Linked DNA regions of Homo sapiens: region 1 is linked to region 2. The links come from fine-mapping of genetic effects on gene expression. A gene starts in region 2. The other region holds a variant in brackets. All regions are shown on one strand. Distances are from middle to middle.

What was found. PIP is the estimated chance that this variant, and not a neighbour inherited with it, causes the effect. A credible set is the group of variants that fine-mapping cannot tell apart.
Region 1: its variant is the best candidate, but not a certain one, in a credible set for the expression of PASK in nucleus accumbens (GTEx, PIP 0.52).

The regions. Positions count from the first base shown.
Region 1 is chr2:241,168,201-241,178,718 of GRCh38, reverse strand. PPP1R7 (protein phosphatase 1 regulatory subunit 7) reads right to left here. Exons shown (of 10, transcript NM_002712.3): 9 at 8,852-8,938. The region is part of intron 2 of LOC105373971 (a long non-coding RNA gene); the gene reads left to right. Among named protein-coding and RNA genes, the nearest start is that of ANO7, 15 kb to the left of the region's middle. The variant T/C (reference allele first, on the strand shown) is at 5,080.
Region 2 is chr2:241,143,380-241,153,474 of GRCh38, reverse strand. PASK (PAS domain containing serine/threonine kinase) reads left to right here and starts at 4,003. Exons shown (of 18, transcript NM_015148.4): 1 at 4,003-4,061. PPP1R7 (protein phosphatase 1 regulatory subunit 7) reads right to left here and starts at 3,008. Exons shown (of 10, transcript NM_002712.3): 1 at 2,928-3,008. The coding sequence starts at 2,979. RefSeq lists silencers at 2,587-2,926, 4,057-4,416, 4,477-4,536, 4,587-4,636 and enhancers at 3,217-3,376, 4,890-5,049.

The DNA.
Region 1 (10,518 bases), 25 kb before region 2:
CCCGGGAGGCGGAGGTTACAGTGAGCGGAGATTGCGCCACTGCACTCCAGCCTGGGGGACAGAGCCAGACTCCGTCTAAAAAAAAAAAAAAAAAATTAGCGGAGCGTGGTGGCGGGCACCTGTAGTCCTAGCTACTCGGGAGGTTGAGGCAGGAGAATGGTGTGAACCCAGGAGGTGGAGCTTGCAGTGAGCCGAGATCACGCCACTGCACTCCAGCCTGGGTGACAGAGCCAGACTCTGTCTCAAAAAAAAAAAAAAAAGCTGAAGACCAGTGACAAAGTAAAGTATCTGCAACACAGATGACATACTAAGGTTTAGTATCATTCATTGATAGAATCTCTATAAGTTAATAATAAAAGGGAAAATGCACTGGACTAAAGCTAGCAGAAAGTATCAAGAGGGAACAAAAGGACAAAGTGGTTGAAAACAGAGGCGCCAGGGTTAGACTCATCTGTAATTAAAGGAATGCAACTGAAACCTAATGAAATGGCCATCACTAGACTGAAGGGGAGCAGAAAGTGGGCCCAGGCCAGGCACACATGCTGGGAGGGAGGCACACAGCCTCTCCTCGAGCAGCCCCTACCTGTGCCCCCCGCTCCTTGCAGCTCACACCCAGACAGCCCTGGGTCAGGGGTGCCAAGCTGGCACAGGCTGCTTGTGCAGGGCGCTGCCTACAGGAAAGCATTCCATCAAGAGGGCTGAGGAAGCACAGCTGTGGCATGGAGCAGGCCTGCAATGTAATTTAAATGGCATCACTTGGCTTAAACGAGCGGGCAGCATCTGCCAACAGAGCATCTGGGAGGGTCCTGGGGAAGCCCCTGTGCCAGCAGGGCAGTGGGCAGATGGGCTCCATGCCGGCATCAGACACCATGAGGGTGGAAACTTTCCTGCCAAATGTTTCTCCTCCCCTGGCTACTGCCTTTGGTCACTGTGATGCTACCTTTCCCCTGGATTACTGGGAAGAGGGTGGGGGCCTGAGCAGGGCAGTGCTGGTCTCAGCCCACCCTCCAGGCCCTGGATGTCAGCTTGAAACAAGTCGCGTATGGCAGGGGCGGGATGCATCATATTGGTGAACTGTGTATTGCTATCCTCCACCTATTTTTCTATTGAATCGCTTTCTTTCACTTTAAAGAACTTTTTGTATGTCATAGAAAATAACCTTAACCTTAACCTCTCAGGCGACCAATGGACTCTTTCATCATGCAAAATACATACGCTTTATAAAATTAGATATACCTATTCTTTCTTTTTTCACTGATTTTTAAATCTTGGTTAGGAAGCTCTCTATGATTTTTTTTTTTTTAAGGTGGAGTCTAGCTTTGTCGCCAGGCTAGAGTGCAGTGGCACAATCTTGGCTCACTGCAACCTCTGCCTCCCAGGTTCAAGCGATTCTCCTGCCTCAGCCTCCCGAGTAGTGGTGACTACAGGCGCGTGCCACCACATCCAGCTAAATTTTTGTATTTTAGTAGAGACAGGGTTTCACCATGTTGGCTAGGATGGTCTCGATCTCCTGACCTGATCGTGCAGTGGCACGATCTTGGCTCACTGCAACCTCCGCCTCCTGGGTTCAAGCAATTCTCCTGTCTCAGCCTCTCCAGTAGCTGAGACTATAGGTGCATGCCGCCACGCCTGGCTCATTTTTGTATTTTTAGTAGAGATGGGGTTTCACCATATTGGTTAGACTAGTCTCAAACTCCTGACCTTAGGTGACCCACCCGTCTCAGCCTCCCAAAGTGCTGGGATGACAGGTGTGAGCCACCGTGCCCAGCTGCATGTGGTATTTTTAAGGCTCTAAATGCCCTACAGAAAACTTGTATGAAACACAGCTATCTCCGTAGTCACGAGAGTGCCTGCTGCCATCACAGGCTGGTTGCAGCTGCATTCTATGAGTCTTCACCAACCTGACAGATAACACTGTATCTCACTGTTTTAGTAGATTTTAAAAGTTAATGAGATATGGCCAGGCACAGTGGCTCACGCCTGTAATCCCAACACTTTGGGAAGCCGAGGCAGGCAGATCACTGGAGGCCAGGAGTTCAAGACCAGCCTGGCCAACATGGCAAAACCCCGTCTCTACTAAAAATACAAAAATTAGCCAGGCATGGTGGTGGCAGCCACCTGTAATCCCAACTACTTGGGAGGCTGAGGCAGGAGAATCACTTGAACCCGGGAGGTGGAGGTTGCAGTGAGCCGAGATCGTGCCACTACACTCTAGCCTGGACGACAGGAGCAAAGCTCCATCTCAAAAAAAAAAAAAAGAAAGAAAAAAAAATTAATGAGATAGGAAATGCTTTATGTATTTACAAGCAACTGTTACTTCTTGCTCTGTGAACACCCTAGTTTTCAAGTGGTACCTGGGTGTGAGCTGTTTTTAATGTAAGGATGTTAGCCCTGCATCTGACACATGTGGATAACATATTTTCCAATGTTATCTGTAGCTGGCCTCCACCCAGTTGGCCAGCCTTTTCTATGTTCCTTCTGCTCATTCAAATATGTTTCAGGCACTGACTGGGCATGGTGGCTCACACCTGTAATCCCAGCACTTTGGGAGGCCCAGGCAGGAGGATTGCTTGAGTTCAGGAGTTTGAGACCAGCCTGGACACCACAGTGAGACCTTGTCTCTACAAAAGATTTTAAAATGGTCCAGACATAGTGGCTCACTCCTGTAATCCCAGCACTTTGGGAAGCCGAGGTGGGCGGATTACCTGAGGTCAGGAGTTTGAGACCATCCTGGCCAACATGGTGAAACCCCGTCTCTGCTAAAAATGCAAAAATTAGCCAGGCGTGGTGGCATTCACCTGTAATCCCAGCTACTGAGAGGCTGAGGCAGGAGAATCGTTTGAACCTGGAAAGCGGAGGCTGCAGTGAGATTGTGCCATTGCACTCCAGCCTGGGTGACAAGAGCAAAACTCCATCTCAAAAAAACAAAAAACGAAACAAAACAAAAAACCCACAAATGTAGCCAGGTCATTGGTGCACACCTGCAGTCCCAGCTACTTGGGAGGCTGAGGTGGGAGGATCACTTGAACTCAGGAGGCCAAGGCTTCAGTGAGCCATGATCATGCTACTGCACTCTAGCCTGGGTGACAGAACAAGACTCTGTCTCAAAAGAAAAAAGTGTATCAGGCACTATTCCAGATGCTGGTGAGATAAGAGTGAACAAAACAATATCCATACTGCGGAATATTATTTGGCCCTAAAAAGAAAGGCAATTCTGACACATGCTTACAGAATGGGTGAATCTTCAGGTCAATATGCTGAGTGAAGTAAGCCAGTCACAAAAATAAATACTGCATGATTCCAGTGATATGAGGTCTGTAGTTAAATTCATAGAGACAGAAAGTAGAAGGGTCATTGTCAAGGTCTGGGAAGGGGAAAATAGGGAGTTATTGTTTAATGGGTACAGAGTTCCAGTTTTATAAGTTGAAAAGAGTCCTGGAGATGGACGGTGGTGATGGCTGTGCACCATTACGAATGTGCTGAATACCACTCACTGTACACTTCCACATGGTTAAGATGGTGAGTTTTATTTTATGCATGTTTTACCACAATAAAGAAATTGGGAGGGAAAACAAAGTAAACCAAACACTAATTTCCCTGCCCTTATGAGGTTTGTATTATACAGTGGGGGAGACAGACACAAAAGTAAGATAAATAAGTAGGACTTCTGTTTCAAGCCATGACAGAATAGCTGGTGCTGAGCTCCTGCCTTTGTCACAAGCTACTAGAAAATAGGATAGAATAGGCCGGGCGCGGTGGCTCACACCTGTAATCCCAGCACCTGGGGAGGCCAAGGCGGGCGGATCATGAGGTCAGGAGATGGAGACTGTCCTGGCTAACACAGTGAAACCCTGTCTCTACTAAAATACAAAAAAAATTAGCCAGGCGTGGTGGCGGGCACCGGTAGTCCCAGCTACTCAGGAGACTGAGGCAGGAGAATGGTGTGAACCCAGGAGGCGGAGCTTGCAGTGAGCTGAGATCGCGCCACTGCACTCCAGCCTGGGCGACAGAGCAAGACTCTATCTCAAAAAAAAAAAAAAGAGGATAAAATATATGAAATAATTGTTTTTATACATCAGACAACAGGCAACACAGATAGTGATTCTTGAGAGACAGGAAACAAATGAGGTGGGTGGTGTGATCATCCCGGCCTTCTGCCTGGAGGAACTTTCAGGACCACAAGGAGGCGGAACCCAAGCAGAGCCTGGTGGCCACACAGAGTTGAGATGGTGATTGTAGTTTGGGGAGGCAAAGGGAGCTGGAATGTATAGATAGGAGTGAGCTATGTAGGGAAAAAGCCTCCAGAAATCCACATGGTATCCTGTGGAATCCTGGACTGAAGATGAAGCTGTGCTAGGCAGAGTGAAAAGCTAAAGGCTGGTCGAAGAACTACTAAGCAGCCCCAAGATGCAGAATGCCCAGAGCTCACCCATAGCAGGTCCATGTTTGTGTTCCCGTCAACCACAGTGGAGAGAACTTAAATACACAGGATATTCACCAGAGATCCTAGGAGGGCCACAGCTTCAAAACAGTGCTAGATTAATCTTACGGAGTAGACTATTTAGATGTACTCTAATAAAGCTTAAAAACAAGCCTCAAAAGGATCAAGCTGTAACTTAATTGCCTGTCAGATAAAGTTCAGTATGTTTTGAAGGAAAACAACATAAATTCCAGACATTCAACAATTGAACACCATAAAGCCCAGGATCTAATAAAAAATTACAAGACGTGAAGAAGGAAGGACTTAAAGGAAAACATGAATCTAATGAAGAGAGAAAAATAATCTACCAAAAAAAAAAAAATAAAGCCAAATGTTCTTTTAGAGTTGAGAAAAATACAGTATCTGAAATAAAAAATTCATGACATGGGCTTAACAGCAGATAGGCTACTACAGATGATAAGATCATGATCTTGAAGATTTAACAACAGAAATTATACAAACAAGCACAGCAAGATGAAAGCCCAAGGGGTGGAGCAGGGTGGAGGCAATGGCCTCAGGGGCCTCGCTAGTGCCAGGGGAACATGCATAACTGGGTTTTCAGAGAGAAACCGGGGTGAGGAGCAAGGGCAGAAGCAGTT[T/C]TAGAGAAAATAGTCTCCAGAAGCTTTCCACATTTGATGAAGACCATAGATTCACAGACCCAGTTAACCCTGACACATCACAGAAAATAAACTACACCATGGCACGCTATATTCAAGTTGCAAAAAACAAAACAAAATAAGAAACAATGATTAAAAAGAACATTAAAAAGCAGCCAGAGGAAAAAAGATAAAAATGACTGCTGGCTTCTTATTAGAAATAATGCAAACCAGGGCCGTGTGTGGTGGCTCACACCTGTACTCCCAGCCCTTTGGGAGGCTGAGGCAGGAGGACTGTCTGAGCTCAGGAGTTCGAGACCAGTCTGGGCAACATGGCAAGATCCCGTCCTTTTTTTTTTTTTTTTTTTTTTTTGAGAAAGTCTTGCTCTGTTGCCCAAGTTGGACTACAGTGGCATGATCTTGGCTCACTGCAACCTCTGCCTCCTGGATTCAAGCGATTCTCCTGTCTCAGCCTCCCCAGTAGCTGGGACTACAGGCACGTGCCACCACGCCCAGCTAATTTTTGAATTTTTAGTTGAGACGGGGTTTCGCCATGTTGGTCAGGTTGGTCTCAAACTCCTGACCTGAAGTGATCCACCTTGGGATTACAGGTGTGAGCCACCGTGTCTGGCCCCATCTCTATTTATTTTTAAAAAATATTTTTAAAATAATAAAAATTTTATAAAGGAGAAATAATGCAAACCAGAGGATGAAAGAACAAAGTATTTAATGTACTTAAAAAGGAAAAAAAAATCTCTCAAGCTAGAATTGTGTATCCATAATATTAAATTCCAAAAATGCAGGCAAATTAAATAGATTTTTCAAACAAATCAAAGTGAAGGATTGGTTTACTGCAGAATGCACGACAAAACAATAGAATTCTTCAGGTGGAAGGGAAATACCAAGTGGAAACTCAGATCCACACGAAAGAATAAACAATGCCAGAAAAGGTAAAATAAGTGAGTTTTCTTGTTTTTAAATTTCTTTTTTTTTTTTTTTGAGACGGAGTTTCACTTTTTTGCCCAGGCTGGAGTGCAGTGGCACGATCTTGGCCCACTGCAATCTCCACTTGCCAGGTTCAAGTGATTGTCGTGCCTTAGCCTCCTGAGTAGCTTGGACTACAGCATGTGCCACCATGCCCAGCTAAGTTTTGCATTTTTAGTAGAGACAGGGTTTCACCACGTTGGCCAGGCTGGTCTCAAACTCCTGATCTCAGGTGATCCACCTGCCTTGGCCTCCCAAAGTGCTAGGATTACAGGCATGAGCCACTGCGCCTGGCCATTTTTAAATTTCTTTAAAAGATAAGGTATCATGGGGATCGTAAGATATTTAAATGTAAAATATATAGATGGTGAAAATTAAAAATGTATTTTTAAATTCTAATCGCTAAAACAACCCTCCCTCCAAACAATCAACAAGAAAACACTAATACAGAGGTATAGCAAATAAGCCAATAATAGAGTTAAAATAGACTGCAAAAAAAAAAAAGTCACTCCAAAAAGTAGGTAGGAAAGAGTAAACAAAGAATAGATGAGACAAATAAAAAACAAATACTAAGATGATAGACTTAAACTCAACCATTACACAAAATGTAATTAAATGTAATTATATTAAATGTAAGCAGTCTAAAGACACCACTTAAAAGGCAGAGATTCTCAGACTGGAGAAGAAAGCAAGATCTAGTTACATACTTTTTATGAAAAACACATTTTAATTATAAAGGCATGGGTTAAGAGGAAATGGATGGAGAAAGATTCCATGAGAGCGCTAATCATAAGACAGATGAAGGGGCTGTGTTAATAACAGACAAGATACCCTTCCAGGACAAGGATAAAGAGGATAAGCAAGAAAGAAGAACATTTCATATGATAAATGGATCAATTCATCAAGAATTCCTCAATTCTAAATATGTATGCACCTGATAACAGACTTTCAAAATACAAGAAACAAAAACTGATGGAACTGAAAGGAGAAATGGATCCATTGACAATTATAGTTGGAAGGTTTCAACATTCTCCTCTCAGTAATTGGAACAAATAGGCAGAAAAATCAACAAACATAGTATGTGGGTTATCAGAAACTTGTTAAGACTGGTTTTCTATTTCTGCCTTAGAGATGAATGATGTGCCTCTCAAATGTGATATGAGCATGGAACTGAGTTTGAGAATTCCTGGTTTGCAGCTTTCCTTCCTGGAATGCAATTCTTTACCTGTAAAATGGGGTAATATGACCTTATCCACATGGTTGCTGTGATAATTGGATCAGAATGGAGAGAGGTATGGACACCATAAAGCGCTGTGCAAATTCTGGCTATTTTTTACTATCTTTGGTGGCCTAAGGAACAGGATTCTTCTGTGTTACAGGGTCAGGCACTACCTGGCCCCTAGTGATTGATCACCAGCCTGCCTGCCTCCCTGCTAGCTGTGGTACCCAGGTTGGCCCCTGCCTGTGGTCTCAGCACTCTGTGCCCCATGCTCTGTTCCTAGGCAGGGCATGCAGAAGGAATCGTTACGCTTCAGGAACATTGCTTCAGTATCAGCTCGTTTCCCAAACCTGCTCCCTAATTTTTTGCCAGGTGCCCTTTCCCTATCACCTGGTCCTCTGTCTCTGGACTCCTTATTCCTGTTGTTTGGTTTCTTTGTGTTGTTCCCTGGCTTCTTTGCCAACTCCCTATGCACTAATTCAACCAGCCTACCACCAGCCACACCTTCCTTCAAGGGTGGGCTGCACATAGACCCACCTGGACTCATTGAGGCTCCCCCTGGCCTGGTACATCTTTATCACCTGCCAAATTCTGGCTCTGATCTTCCCAGACATGCTCTGGTATCCCATCATGACACTACTCAAGACCCAGTGCCACTAATAAGGGGCAAGGAACATTTGCAGCAGGCCACCTGTGTTCTAGGGAAACTTGGATGACCTTTTAAAGTGGGGAAAGGAGAAAGCACAGGACATAAGCAGGGTCAGCAGCACGGCTAGAGGAGAGACAAGGAAGAATGATGCCTTACACTCAGCATGAATCCTGGATTAGACTGAATGTATCTGAGGACACTACTACATTCCCAGCATCACAGGGTGACACCTGTGCCGCAGTCTCTGCAGGGCCACGTGCTAGCGGAAAGGCAATAAACCTTAGGAGATTTCTCTAAGGGAATCCTAGCACTGAAGACTTCCACTCGGGGATCATTTCCCAACCCCTTTAGAGGAACTGCAAAAACTTCTTATATTCTGTTTCTCTTCCTGCTGACTCCACAACACTACTCCTGAAACCATACCTGTGACAAGACAAATACAAGGCAAATTCCAAGATGACTAACTGCAGAAACCCATCCAACATTTCCTTCTGTTGTGCTGGAATATATCTGTAGGGAATGCGTCTGCCTCTCTGCTGAGGTTTGCAAACCATTTGGTCAAATGACAATTGTAGGTTCTACCCATACCTAGATCAGGGCTTCTCCAACCTTTGTGTGTACTGCAATCACCCGGAGTCTTGTAAAGCAAAGATTTTGACTCAGTTTTCATCTGGGCTATGGTGGGGCCCAAGATTTTGCATTTCTAACAAGCTATGTCAATGCTGCTGATCTGTGGCTCACGCTGAGGAGCACAGACAACACCCAATACAAGTCTACAAGAGCGCCCACCCCAAATCTCATGATGTGCGGAGTCACTCAGCATGAAGGCTTACAGGAGATTCTTGTATTCATTCATAAGACATTTTAATCAGTGAGACCAGTTTAGTCAAAGTGTCATCAACCCCAGCGTGTATTAAACTTACCCAGAACTCTTGCAGCTCTGTTAGATGGCTGATATTTTCAATCTTTTTGATTCTATTTGATGCAATGTCCAACATCGTGAGTTTGTTCTAAAAGAAGGAAATAAAATGTTTCCTGGATTACCTCTGATCAACAGTGATTTGCATGACCACGCAGGCAGTGTCAAGTGCTGACCTTAGGGCTGCAGGTGCACTGCCCTCTCTGCCCTCACAGGGTAAGGGCATGCTATGGAGGGTGACGAGACCTGCTTGCTTCCTGCAGCCCTCCCTGGGACAGTGTTTCCATCAGAGCCTGCCCAGCTATCTCCCTGAGCTCTCCTGATCGCTGGAATTTGAGACTGTGTCAGACTCCAAGCCCAGTCCTCCCAGATCCCTGTCCATTGAGACAGACCTAGTGAGACTGATGGTCCCAGGAAGAACCGAGTAACCCCCTGACGCTCTGAAGAAAGGCTGACAATTGTAGAAACATTTACTTAGTGCTCATCACGAGGAAATGTACGACCAAGTAATCTTCAAAACAAAGTTCCTCTCTTCATTTAGGGATGAGGAACTTGGGGCTCAGTGGGGCTAAGAATCTGCCCAGGCGCACAGTAGCAGTGGGAGAGGCAGGACTCTCAGACCCCAGGCCTACACTCTTGTCTGGGAAAAGGGTCCCGGGAGCATAAGTGCAGAGAAGGGACCCATGCTGAGGACTGGGTGCTGGGCCTGCTGAGCACCTGCTGCAGGGTGTGTGCCCCCACTGGGAGACAAGAGTGTGTTTTTAGGATCTTCTACTCTGAAAATGCACATCAGTTACTCACTTTCCAATACATGTTAGCTAAGCCTGAGTAATAATTTTGTTTCTCATCAAAAGGAAAACATTTACAAGCTGTCTGAGAACCTCTGACAAAGTTCATTCCCTTCTCTGCCCTCACGCTCTGCTCCCTCCTGAGTCCCTTCCTTGGTTTTCTACTGCATTTTTGGTATTCCAATTCCAAAGCCTTCTAAGTTTTAAGGGAAAGTTAAAAAATTTCTCAAAAGCAAATACTCCTCCCCCCATCTCCCCTGAAATGTACCCAGCCAGTAGCTTTCCCAATTCGAAAGCGCTATGGCTGTGGCCTGGGAGCTCCTCTGGCTGTACCACCCTTGCTGCCTTGGCGCCCAGCACCCCAGCTGGCACCAGCTGCGTGTGTCAAGTCTGACGCCACTCTCCAGCAGGCTATACGTGGCATGCTGCCTAGGAGGTGCCTTCAAACCACCCCATCTCGGTGCCCTGGTCAGGTCTGCTCACAGAGTATCAGGCTCAACAGTGTGCGAGGGAGCTCAGTGGGGCGGGTTCAGAGCAAAAAGGACTGCAGGAAAATGTTGCAGAAGACGCGACTGTGGGTAATCCAACGACACACCGCCTGGCGGTGGGGCTGGAACAGGCCTCTCTAGCACGGACGGCAGCTCTCCCCCGCACTCTGCACCATTCTGAGATGCTCATGGTCATCTGGTATGCAAGCCCAGAAACTGGCAAAATGAAAGTGGCCTGGAACACACGCAGGATTTGAGCCTCGTGAGGTCCAAGCACCAAGGCTCAGCACGAGGGGCAGAGCCGGTGGTGGGCTCTGGCTGTCAGAACCGGTCCATCACCTCTGAGCTCAGGGATCCATGTAGGCACTCAACACTATTTCACGTTTTTCTACAGG
Region 2 (10,095 bases):
TGAACCCACACATGTCAATGAGAATTCACATCCACTTTATGGGACTTTGAGGAACATATAATAAACACCCGGTTGTAAGTCAAAAGGATTTCATTTAAACATGTTTGTTGAATCCAGTTCAACGAACATCTGAGTGTCTCCCATGTCCCAGCACCATTTGAGGCATATGGCCGCGGGGAGAATGGGGAGCAGAGTGTGGAGCCCACATGGATACTTAGGTGAGGAACACACTACTTCTGCCCTCAAGGAGCTTGTGAAGAATTGCCCAGTGTTCTGAAAGCCTTGGATCACCTGTGATTAAATCCACTAATGGAACCCGGTAGTGAAGCACCTCCTGAGTGCCTTTCACTTTTGGGCTGGGGGATCACCACTGTGACCCTTCTGCCACATACCTCCATCCATGCTCCACTATTTATCTGGCTAAGAAAACCAGCCAAGTTCACAGGCCCACGTTCTGAAAGAAATCAAGACTAACTCAAATCAGACTGTGGGCAGGGAGGATCACTAAGGAAAAGGAGAATACAGCCAATAGTGCTGACCGCCCACAGAAAGCTCATTGGTGTGAAATGAGCTTTCACACTGGACACTGGACAGAGTGTTAGCAACTTAAGGCTTTTAAAGGTTCATAAATATTTTTTGAATTAAAGAATAAGGCAATTCAATGTGTCAGGTAAAAATTCTTTGGTAAGGTTGTCAAATCATTTTTCTTTTTTATAACTTTACTCATGACCTCTTTTGGAAGTCTGTCTGGAAAACATGAGGCACTAACACATTACTTGGAATTATCAACCATACTGAAAATACTCTTTCCTGACTATGGTTTATCTACAAAGAGATGTGCTCTTTGAGGGAAAAAGTTCAACTTCATCTTTGTACTTCCCGCTTAGCCTAGCAAAGTAAAACCCAAGAAAGGATTGCTGTAGAAAACAAGTCCTTATAAAACCCACCTCCAAAACCTCCAAATCCATCTCTTCTTCCCTACCCCCGCAATGACGGTGGCTCACTTACTTATTAGCTGCAGCCTGGGCTCCTGCCCTGCCTCCTAACTCGTCTCTGTGACTTGTCTTGCCCTGCTTAACCTATTCTCCCCTGCCAGAGAGTCTGATCTAATTCTAAAATCCAAATCTGATCTTTTGAGTCCAAAAGTATTTCTGGAATGCTCTTCCTGAGTTTGCATCTTGCTGCTAGAGATGCAGCTTTGGCAAATCGTTTCCATTTGAAAGCCTCAATCTCCTAGTCTGTGGAAGGGAGCTAGTATAGCACCTATGCCTCAGCAAGTTGCTGTCACGGTTAAATTAGAAAAGGCACAAGAGCAGTTAGCACGTGCATGACATGCAGTAGATATATAACAAATTAGTCACCACCAGGCACAGGTCACTTGGTGGTCCAGGCTCAGGGAGAGAAAGTTCTACTGCATGACAATCTGGCACAAAAACCCCAGTAAGAGGAGGAGTGGTGTGAGGTTAGCAAAGGCTTAGCTAACGAAGGTTGGCCAAAGTGAAGCCTGAGGGCAGCAGAGAGGGTCTGGAACATGGGACAGTGGCTCTGCATGTAAGAAAATGACTTTGGTGTACTGGGGATGATGGGCTGGTGAACAGGGACAATCAATCTAGCCTAGAGATGATGAAGGTCTGAGTTAAGGTACTGGCAATGGGAATGGAGGACGTATCGGAGATTTGGAGATACTTTCAAAAGTAAAAGTCAGAGCTCCTTGACTAACAGGACATGGGTGGGAGTGGGACAGTGAGAAAAGCCGGGCTTTTATATCTGTCATTTACCAAGACATGGAAACAGCTGAAGAGGGAGTGGGAGGATATGAAGAGGCGCTTCTTAAAAAGACTCAAAGGGTATGAAGTCCAAGACCCTTAACACTACCGCCCCCATCCCCACCACATACGATTTGGTCAAACTCTCCTCCACACCTTTTGACAGCAGTTTTCTCCGTCTTGAGTGATTCTTGCTCTTTTCCCTCACCCTATCCCCAACCTCGTTGCCTTCGAGTTATTCTTCAGGCTCCAGCTCAGAGCTCGCCCTGCTTCTGCAGCTGTCACCACTCCCTAACATGTCAGGCCTTCCTGCTGCACCCGCCCTCCTTCCCCAGCTCCACATTCCTCTTCCCTACCCCTTTCACATAAGGCAGTGACTGCTCTTCTGGGAGGTCTGTACCCCTCACCAAACCATGGGACCCAAAAGTACTTAAGCTGATGACACAACTGATTCCCCAGTTGCTAAGTGGGTGTGTGCACGCATTTTTACACACATACTGTACGTGCACGTATATGACTGTACCTACAGATATGCAGAAAATTATAAACACATGTGTACGTATAACATATACATATATGCATGTGGTTTTTTTTTCCAACAAAGTGAATGAGGAGGAAGAAAGTTGAATTCAGACTTTTTGGAACTATGACAGCTTTGAAAACAGGTATCACCTTGTGTAACTCAATCTTCCGGTTCCTTGTTACCCCTTCCCAACAGTCCATTCGATTTCAAGAGAAGACCCTTCTCCACCCTCACCACGTGAACCAAGGAGCAGACTCTGGTAGATCCCAGCGCCTCAGTTTCCTCGTCAGCTGACCGAGGAGGCTCCCCCGCCCGTCAATCTCAGAGGCTCGGGGCGAGGCTCCAACTGGACTGAATGGAGCCACCGCGTCCCATTCAGCCCCACCCCCGGCCTGGCCTCGCGCCGCCGCTCTCCCCCTAGCTCTGGGTCCTTCCCGGCCGCTGCCGCCCCCGGGCCGGGGCTCCCCCGAGGTCCAGCGCCTCCCCCGCTCCCCCGGGTCCGGCTGTCAGCTGTCAGGGGGCCGCGCGGCGGCGGCCAGAGGCAGGACGTGGAGTTTCTCTCAGGCACGGAGCAGTTCCAGCCCGCAGCTCCCCCCGCCCGCTGGGCCCTTGGGCCGCCGCCCGCAGGGGCCGCTCACCCTCCATCATCTCCTGCGACTGTTGCTGCCCCGCGCCGCGTTCCGCCGCCATGTTGGCTGCTCTTCCCCTTTCCGGAATCTGTCGCCTCAGACCCCTCAGCCAATCAGGGCTCCCGCCTCAGAGCCGGCCCTGCCAATGGGATTCCGGCGCGGCGACTTCAGCCGCGCCGCGCCTGCGTGGGCCCAGCGCCTCATGGGAGTTGTAGTTCCGTCATGAGGCCGCGCGCCGCGCCTCCCCCAGAGCAGGTAATTTCAGGCGGCGGAGCCGGAACAGTCTGGAGGCGAGAAGCTGGGAAGGAAAGCAGAGGGAGTCGAAGCGGGACGCACAGAGCCGTAGCTGCAGGCAGACGGAGTGGACGTCTAGGCAGAGTGGAGAGACGCCCTGGGCTTGAGAGTTGACTTATGTCACTGTCTCGACCTCGGAGGCGTGGAGGGGCCGCGGGCCAGGCGGATCTTTCCGTGGCTGCAAGGTGCGGGCCAGTCCTACGTGCATCCCTGACCTCTGCGAGCCTCGCTGGCTGCGTCTGTACAATGGGCCGAACGGCAAGAGCAACAACATTCTCCCGGCGTCCCCGCGCGGATTTTACCCATGCGAAATGCCGCCTTCTCTTGACGCTCGGAGCAGGCGGGCAGGTGCGGGGCACTTGCGCTGGTGGGGCCGCTAGCCAGCTGGCTGGCTCCGGGGCGCCAGCTGGGCTCCCCTTGCAAGTCGTTCCCAGCCCAGTGCGGACGCTGCAGCCTTCGTCTACCCTGCGGAGCCACCCGGCCCATGAACGAGCCGCCCCGCGTCCTCCGCCTTCAGAAAGAGGCCTCCAAGAGGCGAGCTCTGCGCTACTCACCCATTTTGATCGCGAGTCGGGAGGAAACCGCATCTGCCCGGCCCGGGGGCGGAGGCGCCCATTATTCCTTTGGCTCCTCCGAAGCGCCGTAGGGGTGTTTGGTGCGTCCCTAGCAACCCTTAGCGCGGGCTTCTAGACTCTGGCTAGCTTAGTCCCGCCCATACGCGCAAGTGGCTGGTCCGTGGAGCTTGTCAATCGGTGCTAGTCGCTGTGCGATTGGTCGGTGGGATAAAAGCGCGGAAGGGCTCCTTTCCGTGGTGTGTAGCCGGCTTGGCGTGACCCTCGCCTGATCCAGGTGAGATACCTGCGCTCGGGAGAGCGGGCCGGGCTCCGCCATCTCCCCAGGGCGGCTGTGGGGCCTGCGCGGCTCCGCGCCCCTGGCCCAGGAGGATCCGCCGCCCGACTCTTAGACCAGCCCGACCCCGGGTCTCCCGCCCCTGCGCCCGTCGCCCTTCGCGCACCGCCGAGCCCGCGTCCTCTCCGTGCCCAAATCGCGGCGGGGTTGCGGCCGTTGGCCCTGGGCCCCGCGCCCCCAGCGTCTTCGGGGTGCCCTTCAGTGTAGCCTGCCCGGTGGGCGCCGAGGCCCCGCGCCTCGGGTCGCCTCGGGACCCTGCGCTCTCTTCACCGCAGCCGGCCCTGCGGGGCGAGCTCCAGGAGAACCAGCCCGGATCCCGCCAGCCTCCTGCACTGGGCGTGTGGGTCCCTGCGGGCTCAGCCGGCGCCGCGGGGTCGGGGGCGCGCGCCGCCGGCGCTCGTGGTTACAGCAAAGACCTGGACTTGAGCCTTAATTTTTTCACTAATTTTTCTTTCCCAGAGTACGGCAGGGGCCTGCGCTGCCGTCTTGAGGCCTTTCTCGTCCTTACCTTCCGCATCTCAGTACCATTCGATGTCCATTTTTCTCTTAGGGGTTCCCTCTCTTCATCTTTCTGCTGCTACCTTAATTTAAGACTTTATAATTTCTTGCCTGGATTACTGTAGCCTTTCTCCTGCTTTCCAGCCTTGCACCGACATGGTCCCTGGAGTAATCTTTGTAAAATGCATATCTGGCCATGTTACTCCTAAGCATTGAATCCTTAAAAGTTCATTTTGGGGATAAAATTAAGACTTTGGGCAGGCATAGGAGGCTCTGGGCTCATGCTTGGCCCTTCCAGGCCCACGTCCACCTACTCTTCTGGGTACTGAACTCCTCTCTGGGAGGCTTTGCCTCTGAAAGACTTCTTCACTCTGCTTGGTAGGGCCCGGCTCTGCAGGTGCCTCCTCCAGGACTGACATCCTTGCTGTGTTCTACTGCACTGTTCACCTTGTTGGCCTCATCCTGAAACTGGTTCTCCTTTTTGTTGTACAGCTGTGCTGACAGCAATGGGAGCTGTTTGCTTCTTAGCTTATGTTCTGGTGGGAGGGGGACAGTTGCTTCTAGAAGTTCGCCGAGATGCTCCCTGCAAAGTTGTCCTTGCTTCTGTTTGGTCTGAGGTGGGGTCACTTGTGTCTTCTGGAATCAAAACTAGCAATGGGAATATGGTTACTCGGTGGCACCATTAGGTGCTGTCTGCTGGGTTTGGGTTCCCGTGTCTGCAGCTCACAGTGGATACAAAGGACAATTTTAAAAATTTGGGCCTGGACGTGCAGGTATTTCTGGTTAACGTCTGAGTCAAAATTTAGTGATCTAAGGTCATGTGAAGCCAGACTCTGTTCTTTCTTGAGGCCAGGCTGTGGCTGTGGAGTGCACGGGAGGCTCCAGGGGCCTATGCTGTTCAGTGACAAACTGGCCCACGTGGACTTCAGATGCCCAGGAGGCACAGCGGGAAAAAGGATGCATCTTTCCTGCTGTCCTCCCCGCTCCCGCAGAGGGTCCCATCAGTTTCCCTCCTGGATAGGCTTGTAACTCTCAGTAACCTAATTAAACTTCCACAACTTTAGTTGGTATTTATTTACTTTCTCCCATGAAGGACAAAAAATTGCATGCCCTTACCCTCCCTTTGCTTTTTTTCCCCCTTTCCATTTCATGTTAGTTACTTTTACAAAGAAACTTCTGTAACATTTACAATATATTCTGAATAGTTATATTACTTTTTTATTATTTTATTTTTTGAGACAGGGTCTTGCTCTGTGGCCCAGGCTGGAGTGCAGTGGTGCTGTGTCCTCTCACTGCAGCCTCCGCCTCCTGGGCTGAAGCGATTCTCCCACCTCAACCTCCCAAGCAGCTGGGACTACCAGCATGTGCCACCACACCTTGCTAATTTTTAATTTTTTTTTTGTAGAGATGGGGTCTCCCTATGTTGCCCAGGCTGATCTCGAACTCCTGGGCTCAAGTAATCTGCCTGGCCTCCCAAAGTACTGGGTATATGACTTTTTAAAATAGTTTTGTAACATTGACATTGCAGTCTGAAGAGTTATATTTTTTAGGAATTAAAGTTTTCTAACAATGTATTCTGAAGAGTTATATTACTTTTTTAAGAAAGTAAGGTTTTACAACATTTACAATGTATTCTGAAGCTATAATTAAGTGTCCTGAGCTTTGTCTATAGGTTGGTTCTAAAAGTAGAAAAAACTGCCTCACACTATAATCATGTCATTGTTATTTATTATGGCAATAATTAGTGCATTTGGATGCTTAGAGAAGGAGATGTAAACCTGTAACTAAAGGTCCCATTCATTGTTGCTGCTTGTAGGAAAGCTGCACACTCGAACCCCAAACCCTATATGTAATAGCTTCCTACACATCTGCAGGTTTGCAGAGCCTTTGCCTTCCAGGGTCCTAGGCTGGGTTTGTGTGTGAATGTCTCTGAATTTTTTGGCCGTATCAGTTTATTCATACAAAAGAATAAAGGCAGTGTTAGTCATGAATTGTACCAGCAGAGTGGATGCATTTGAACCCATCACCCTAGGAAATCAGGGGACCTGTGCCCTTGTGCCTCTTCCCCACTCTTGCACCTGCCTGACCCAGAGGGAACCACCTGCCTGAAATTTAGGTTTACCAGTCTCTTATTTAAGAAGTAGTTTAATTACATAGGTGTGTTTCCCTGAACTACTTATTTAGATTATTTCATGACAAAGGAATCCTCCTGCTGATTGTCTTCCGTAACTTGATTTTTTCCACTCGTATATGGCTAAGATTCACCCTTGTGTGTAGTTTATTTGTTTTCACTGCTGTAATTAGTGGTATGAATATACCAGAATTTAAAATCTATCTTCTTGTTAAAGAGTGTTTGGGTTTCATTTCCTTTTTTCCTCCCTCTCTCCCGCACTCCCTCCCTTTCTTCCCTCCCTTTTTTCTGCCTGTCTCTTTGCCATTGAGAACCATATTGTCCCGAACATTCTGGTGTCTTCTTATCTGTTTGCAAAAATTTCTCTGAAATATAAATCTAAGTGAAAAGTGCTGTATCCATATAGACAAATGTTTCACTTGAATTGTTTTCTAAAGAGATTATATTAATGTATTAAGAGTTCCTGTTGATCCAAATCCTTTTTGACATTGGGTATTACTAGATTCTTCATTTCTGCTGACTTAGTAGGTATAACATCATCATGATTAGGATTTCCTCTCCTGTAAAACGCTTGTTCCTATTTCTTGACATTTTTTATTGGGCCATGTGTCTTTTAAAAATGTTTAAATTTTAAATAGTTGATCTTTTAAAGCTATTCTGGATATTAATTTTCTGTTGGTTATGTATGTGGCAAATATCTTCTCCCAAATTGTGGCTTGTTCTTTCGTTTTCTTTATGGTATTCTTTGTGAAGCTGTGTTCTCATTTTTTTTTTTCTTTTTTTTGGGGGGGACGGAGTCTCGCTGTGTCGCCAGGCTGGAGTGCAGTGGCGTGATCTCAGCTCATTGCAACCTCCACCTGCCAGGTTGTGTCGCCAGGCTGGAGGGCAGTGGTGTCATCTCGGCTCATTACAACCTCCACCTCCCAGGTTCAAGCGATTCTCCTGCCTCTGCCTCCAGAGTAGCTGGGAATACAGGTGTGTGCCACCATGCTCAGCTAATTTTTTTTTTTTTAGTAGAGATGGGGTTTCACCACATTGGTCAGGATGGTCTTGATCTCTTGACCTCGTGATCTGCTTGCCTCGGCCTCCCAAAGTGCTGGGATTACAGGTGTGATGTGTTCTCAATTTTAACGTTAAACTTATTAATCTTATTTTATAGCTAGAGTTTTTTGTGCCTTGTTTAAGAAAACTTTCCCTACCCCAAAGTCTTACAGATAGCCTCTTTTCTCCTAAAAACTTAGTGATTTTATTTTATATTTTATTTGGTTTGACAGGTCTCGCTTTGTTGCCTAGGCTGGCCTCCATCTCCCTGGGCTCAAGCAATTATCCTGCCTTAGCTTCTAGAGTGGCTCGGACTATAGGTGCAGGCCACGAGACCTGCCTGGCTAAAAAGTTTAGTGTTTTGACTTCCACAGATCAGATCTTTTATGCCCTGGGCACCATAGTGAGACCTCATCTCCTAGTTAAAAAAAAAGATGGCCATGTGAAGATACATACAAACAGGGAGAAGTCGGCCGGGCGCGGTGGCTCACGCCTGTAATCCCAGCAGTTTGGGAGGCCGCAGCAGGTGGATCACGAGGTCAGGAGATCGAGACCATCTTGGCTAACACGGTGAAACCCTGACTCTACTAAAAATACCAAAAATTAGCCAGGCGTGGTGGCGGCTGCCTGTAGTCCCAGCTACTCGGGAGGCTGAGGCAGGAGAATGGCGTGAACCCGGGAGGCGGAGGTTGCAGTGAGCCGAAGTCGCGCCACTGCACTCCACCCTGGGCGACACAGCGAGACTCTGTCTCAAAAAAAAGAAACAAACAAACAGGGAGAAGCTCTGTGATGGCGAAGGCGGAGACTGGAGTGACGCAGCTGCAGGTCAAGAACACCAAAGATGGCCAGTATGGCCAGTAGCCACCAGATGCTAGGATAAGGCAAGGAGGGGGGACTCCTTGGAGTTCCATATTGGAAGAGGTGGTGTTGGGAGGGCCACCTCCCCTTTCCTCTTCACCCCAGGCCTGCCTTGTCTTGGAAGGGCCTCGTGTGGGCATCCTGCTAGCTTGTCCAAGCTCGCTATTCCTGGAAGGCTGCTCCTCAGCCAGTTCACGGCTATAGGTGTGCCAGTGTGGGAGGACCTGGGTGGAAAGAGGCCTGTGTGTGTCTTAGAAGTGGGCACCAGACCCTTTGGCTGGGAACTCTGGGGTTCTGGATACCCAGAAGGTGGTCCAGAAGAGGGTATATGGGGTGTGGTTGGGCTTGCCTTGGCCCCAGGGTCTCCTCATTTCGTGGGGGAAACTCCAGCCATGGTTCTGGTATTGGCCACAGCCTCCTCTTGCTGTTTATCTAAAGCCTGGATGACCAGGTGGGGGCTTCCTGCCAGTAGAGGAAATCTTCTTGCTTTAAGGGCTCTTTTTGTTGAGTTTGGCCATGAGGACAGGGTATTGGTAAATGTGTACTTGTGTTTCAAGTGCTTGCCAATATGCAGGATGGAACTCTTAAGTATCTCCACTCTGCAGGGTGGTCACATGAATGTATACATGTGACAAGACTGCATGGAACACGTGCTCACATGCGCGCACACACACACGCTCATGTACACATGTGCACACGCACACACACGCACGGACACACACGCACACCCACACACACACACACCTGCAGGTAAATGCCTTGAAATCTGGACGAGGCTGATGGATGGTATCAAGTCAGTTTCCTGGCTGTGACACTCTCCTGTAAGATGTCACCATGAGAGGGAACTCGGAAGAGTATGTGAGATTTTCCTGTATTTCCACCCTGTATCAGCATTTGAATCATGTATAAGAGAAAAGCTAAAAATACAAATCTCTGGTGCCAGGCCTGTCTCTAGGAGACATGGCCTCTTGGCCATGGCCCCCGCGACCTCACTTGTTGGCAGCACCCAGGTGATTCTGTGCACAGCTGGTCGGATGGTCAGGACTCACTGTTTAGGGGAAAGCTGAGACCATGGGAGCTGTGCAGCCCCCACGTGCTGATGGGTTCATCATGACCTGGGAGTATTTTCAGTTGGTGTGTACCTGCAGTCCCTGCCTTCCCTCATGGCTCCTTCCCACCCTGTTCTTTGTTTTCCTCTCTCTCTCCTTCCCTCTTTCCCATATCTTCCTATGTATTTTTCTTGGAAAGAGCTTCTTTTTTTTTTTCTTTTTTTTTGACATGGAGTCTCTCTCTATCGCCCAGGCTGGAGTGCAGTGGTGTGATCTCGGCTCACTGCAAGCTCTGCCTCCCGGGTTCACACCATTCTTCTGCCTCAGCCTCCCGAGTAGCTGGGACTACAGGCACCCGCCACCATGCCCGGCTAATTTTTTGTATTTTTAGTGGAGA